Linked DNA regions of Homo sapiens: region 2 is linked to region 1. The links come from fine-mapping of genetic effects on gene expression. A gene starts in region 1. The other region holds a variant in brackets. All regions are shown on one strand. Distances are from middle to middle.

Region 1 (2,794 bases):
TGGCTCACGCCTGTAATCCCAGCACTTTGGGAGGCTGAGGCGGGTAGATCACTTGAGGTCGGGAGTTCGAGACCAGCCTGGCCAACATGGTGAAACCCCGTCTCCACTACAAGTACAAAAATTAGCTGGGTGTGAGCACATGCCTGTAGTCCCAGCTACTTGGGAGGCTGAGGCAGGAGAATCGCTTGAACCCGGGAGGCGGAAGTTGTAGTGAGCTGAGACCACACAACTGCACTCCAGCCTGGGCGACAAAACAATAATAATAATAATAATAAAAGTACAACAGAACATCTAGTTGTCTGGGTAACTGAGGGAGAAATTAGGCCGAATGACTCTGTTATTTGTTCTGGCCAGATAATCTTGGCCTTAAATTAAATCACCTTTGGCCTACCTTCTTCAAAACGAAATAATTTTCTCTTCGGCAAAACATTTCTTATTTGACCAAATGATTACCATCATATCTTTGGAAGCAAACAAAATATCAGAATTTACATCACACAATTTACATATGCAAAGCCTGATTTTGCCAGCTAGGGAGGGATAAGCTAAACAAAGGGAAGTGGTGAAAACAAAGTAGTAATGTTATGATGGGTCAGAGAGCAACACTTGGCAAGTTGTGCCAAATTAGTCGACGAAGCATTCTATTGGGAATTGCAAAGTAGGAAGTCCTATTTTTGACTCTGCTGATCTCGGTAAATATTTCCTTGTTTTAAAAATGGGCATAATTTTCTGTTACCTAAGAACCCTGTTATGAAAATTAACGAGTCTATAAAATGTTCTGACGTCTCTAGAAGCCCTTCCTAAACACACACTATAATCTTGTATTCATACAGTGCCTGCTCCTGCTTTTTGAAGATATGCCGGTCTTTATTAATGACATCTTCTACCACTGTTAAGTTCACTGTGAGTCCTCGTAAAATTAATTAATGAAACAGTCACTATTCTAAGTGGGAGACTGCCTTCAGAAGTGGTTTCTACTGCCCATATGGTCAATGCTACGGAATTAAACACTGAAGTACCAAAGGCAATGCGTTCCTCTTTGGAGGGAGGCGGCAAACGGGAACGGGACTGAGGCGAGAGCTAGCAGCACTGCGCGGGGAGCCTGAGCCGCTCCGCACGCCCCGGGCCGACGGGTCCTAGAGCGCCCCGGGGCCTGGGCTCGCGGCGGCCCCAGCGGGGCTCGATTACTCTCGCCTGGACGAGAAGCGGCGCCTCGGCTCCGAGGAGCCCTACGGTGGGGAGGTGGGGCGACGACAACAAAAAGAAGTCAAGTGGGAGGGGATTCGCCGGCGAGGGGGGCGACGGCGGCCGCCAAGGGAGAGGAGGCGGACACCTCCGAAGGGACCTGCGGCGCCGGGAGCCCAGCGATCCTGCCCACGAGCGACTGGCGGGCCCGGGAGGACGCCTCGCGGCGCACAGCCGGGAGCCCCGCGGCCCGCCCCCTCGCACCGCTCGCGCCTCTCTCGCGCCTCCGTCCCGCCCCCTCGCCTAGCGCCGCCCGCGCGCAGCGTCTCGCGCCGGCCCGGCCCGCCCGCCGGGAAACAGCCGCGAGAGCAGCGGCCGCGGCGGCCGCCAGCGCGCCTTCCCCTCCCGCGCTCCCGCGTCGCCCCCGCCCTCGGCGCCTCGTCCCCGGGCCGCGCGCCCGCGCTCCGGCCAACGTTCTCTCCCGGCCTCCCGGGCCCGCCGCCTACTCCCGCGTCTCCGAGCTCCTCAACCGCCGCGGTCTCCCTGGGCGCGCGGCCCGCCGCCTGCTTCCGGGGCGGGCGGACTGGGCGCCTGGTGCCGGCGGCCGCAGCGACAGCGCCCCCGGGAAGCAGAGGAGGAAGGAGAGAAGAGGTGGAGGTGGCCGCAGGCTGAGTCGCGGCCGGGATGTCCGGGCAGCCGCCGCCGCCGCCGCCGCAGCAGCAGCAACAGCAGCAGCAGCTGTCGCCGCCACCGCCGGCGGCCTTGGCCCCAGTCTCCGGAGTCGTCCTGCCGGCGCCCCCGGCCGTCAGCGCCGGCTCTTCTCCGGCCGGCTCGCCCGGCGGCGGTGCGGGCGGCGAAGGCTTAGGGGCCGCGGCGGCCGCCCTGCTCCTCCACCCTCCGCCGCCGCCGCCCCCGGCCACCGCGGCCCCGCCGCCCCCGCCGCCGCCCCCGCCTCCCCCTGCCTCAGCGGCTGCCCCCGCCAGCGGGCCGCCCGCTCCCCCGGGCCTTGCAGCGGGCCCCGGCCCGGCTGGAGGAGCCCCGACCCCAGCTCTGGTGGCGGGCAGCAGCGCCGCGGCCCCCTTCCCTCACGGGGACTCGGCCCTGAACGAGCAGGAGAAGGAGTTGCAGCGGCGGCTGAAGCGTCTCTACCCGGCCGTGGACGAACAAGAGACGCCGCTGCCTCGGTCCTGGAGCCCGAAGGACAAGTTCAGCTACATCGGCCTCTCTCAGAACAACCTGCGGGTGCACTACAAAGGTACTGGGCGTGTGTCCTGCGGTGGGAGTGGGGCACTGACCCGACGTGGCCGGCCGCCGCTGCGCCGCTCTCGACCCGCCCCCGACCCCCGCCCTCGCGGGCTCTGCCCTCGGAGGCCACTCGCCGCCTGTTGTGCTGCTCCGGGTGGGCGCGGGGGTCGCGGTGAAGGGTCCGAGGGTGAGGGGCGAGATTCTTGGAAAAGGAAGGTGAGTAGAATGCCCCAGGGTAGAAAGGAGCTGGTAATCCTAGACCAGGAGCAGGACACCTTGAGGGAATCCGGGATGACAGGACAGAACTGGCTTTCTGATTTCCCTGGGAGATAAATCTTGGGGCTTGGGTAGAGGAATCCATGGA
Region 2 (2,794 bases), 38 kb before region 1:
CGTGCCTGTGCTCCCAGCTACTCAGGAGGCTGAGGCAGGAGTATCGCTTGAACCCTGGAGACAGAGGTTGCAGTGAGCCGAGACTGCACCATTGCACTCCAGCCTGGGCGACAGAGTGAGACTCCATTTCAAAAAAATAGAAACAGGAAGAAAAAGAAAAAGAAATTGGAGAGGGCAGATAGATGCAGGTAAAATTCCTACAGGTGGACCTGCATTTTCCTGCTCATTTCTGTTGCCCCTGCAACTTGTGAACACTGTTAAGCCCCTCTCTGCACCTTTACACACTCCTGGTCTAACACTGCCACACAGAAACACACCTCCACACACCATCAGCAGTGACTATCGTGAATCTACTTATCTATTTTTACATTTGTATGGTTAATTTGTAGTAAAGATGGATTCAAATAAATCTTTTGCTGATTGACTCCAATTTCATAATGAAGGAAATTAGTTCAGTTGCTCTATCATTCTAGAGAAATTCCCATTTTAGTTCATTAGGATTGTCCTCTCTGAGTTGGTCTAATCCAATTCTCTGCCAAGTGGTTAACCTTACATGAAGAAAATACACGATTTTAACTTCTTCATTTTACACATATATAGTGACATAAACTGGTCAATCTTCCCCACCCATATATCCATGGGAAAACTGGAAAAAATAATTATTAGAAATGGACACCATCATTCTAAAACAACAAAAGGATAAGCCATTTTTGTTTAAAATTTGTGTTTCAATTTTTGTTTAGAGTAGGCCAAGGTAGTAAATTATGCCTGGGAAATATATATACAAATCTTCTCTGGAAAACAGATTTTAAATCCAGGCCTCAACAAATTATAAGAGATAGATTTCCAAGGAATATGAGCTCACAATAAAAATATCTCAGAACATACAAGGAAATAAGCCATCATGCATGAAAGCCAGCAAACCCTGAATGACATTTTTTAATGAAAAAAGTATTGACAATAGATTCAGTGCAATCTCTATCAAAATCTAAGCATATTATTAAAAAGAAGTTGATAAGTTCACGCTAAAATCTCTGTGCAATTGCAAAAGACATAGAAAAGCCAAGACTACTACTTCTTCTTCTTTTTTTTTTTTTTTTGAGATGGAGTTTTGCTCTTCTTGCCCAGGCCGGAGTGCAATGGCATGATCTCGGCTCACCACAACCTCCGCCTCCTGGGTTCAAGCAATTCTCCTGCCTTAGCCTCCCAAGTAG[G/C]TGGGATTACAGGCATGCGCCACCACGCCTGGCTAATTTTGTATTTTTAGTAGAGACGGGGTTTCTCCATGTTGGTCAGGCTGGTCTTGAACTCCCAGCCTCAGATGATCTGCCCACCTTGGCTTCCCAAAGTGCTGGGATTACAGGCGTGAGCCACTGCGCCCGGCCAAGAATTTTTTTTAAAAAGAAGAATGAAGGTGGAGGAATTACACTAACTGAATTCAATACTAACTATAAAGCTACAGTAATTAAGCTAATATAATATTAGTGTAAGAACAGACAAATAGATTAATGGAACAGAGAGTTCAGAAGTAGATCCTCACATATATAGTCAATTGACTTTAGACAGAAGTGCCAAGGTAATTCAATGAGCAAAGGGTATCTTTTCAACAACATGCTGGAAAAACTGGATATCCATATGAAAAAACATGAGCCTTAACTTTTACTTCACACCATATGCAAAAATTAACTTGAAATAATCAAAGACCTACTTCTACAGGCTAAAATTATAACACTGCTATAAGAAAAAATAGGAAAAAATCTTCACAAGTTTGGGTTAGGCAGATTCCTTAGATGGGACACAAAGGCATGAAAAGAAGACATTGAGAAATTGAACTCCATCAAATTTTTAACTTCTAATCTTCATATAAGTCAGAAAGGACTGACAAAGGACTTCTATCCAGAATATATAAACAGCTTTTATAAATAAACAGTAAGAAGACAAAACCCCGAATTTTTTATGGGCAAAAGATATAAACAAATATTTTACAAAAGAAGATATAGAATTGTCCAATAAGTACATGAAAAATGCTTCACATTTTCATTTATCAGAGAAATGCAAATGAAAACTACAAGAAAATACCACTCCACAGCCACCAGAATGGCTAAGATTTTTTAAACTGACAGTTCCAAGTATTGGCCAGGATGAACATTGCTGATAGATGTACAAAACAGCACAACCAATTTGGAAAATAGTTTGGCAGTTTCTTCTAAGGTTACAATAACCGTACGACCCAGAAATTTCACTCCTAGCTGTTTACCCAAGACAAATGAAAACATGTCCACAAGAAGACTTGTACATAAATGCTTATAGCAGCTTTATTTATAATAGTGAAAACAAAACAGAAAATAACCAAAATATCTATTAGCAAGCAAATAGATAATGATGGTGTATCTATATATGTCAACATAATGGAACACTACTCAGCAATAAAAAGGAATAAACTACTGATGTACACAACCTGAATAAATTCAAAACATTGAATATATTTTTGTTTGTTTATTTTATTTATTTATTTATTTATTTTTGAGACAGAGTCTCACTCTGTTGCCCAGGCTGAGGTGCAGTGGCACAATCTCCGCTCATTGCAACCTCTGCCTCCCAGGCTCAAGCAATTCTCCTGCCTCAGTCTCCCATGTAGCTGGGATCACAGTCATGCACCACCACGCCCAGCTAATTTTTGTATTTTTAGTAAAGACGGGGTTTCACCATGTTGGCCAGGCTGATCTCGAACTCCTGACTTCAGGTGATCCGCCTGCCTTGGCCTCCCAAAATGCTGGGATTACAGGTGTGAGCCACC

Evidence for each region. PIP is the estimated chance that this variant, and not a neighbour inherited with it, causes the effect. A credible set is the group of variants that fine-mapping cannot tell apart.
Region 2: its variant is the best candidate, but not a certain one, in a credible set for the expression of RANBP9 in whole blood (TOPMed, PIP 0.75).

What each region holds. Positions count from the first base shown.
Region 1 is chr6:13,710,581-13,713,374 of GRCh38, reverse strand. RANBP9 (RAN binding protein 9) reads left to right here and starts at 1,540. Exons shown (of 14, transcript NM_005493.3): 1 at 1,540-2,440. The coding sequence starts at 1,870. It overlaps LOC124901264 (a long non-coding RNA gene), which reads left to right and starts at 621. Exons shown (of 2, transcript XR_007059462.1): 1 at 621-692; 2 at 834-1,023. RefSeq lists silencers at 1,036-1,805, 1,966-2,085, 2,166-2,215, 2,476-2,595.
Region 2 is chr6:13,749,050-13,751,843 of GRCh38, reverse strand. No RefSeq gene overlaps it. Among named protein-coding and RNA genes, the nearest start is that of RANBP9, 39 kb to the right of the region's middle. The variant G/C (reference allele first, on the strand shown) is at 1,215.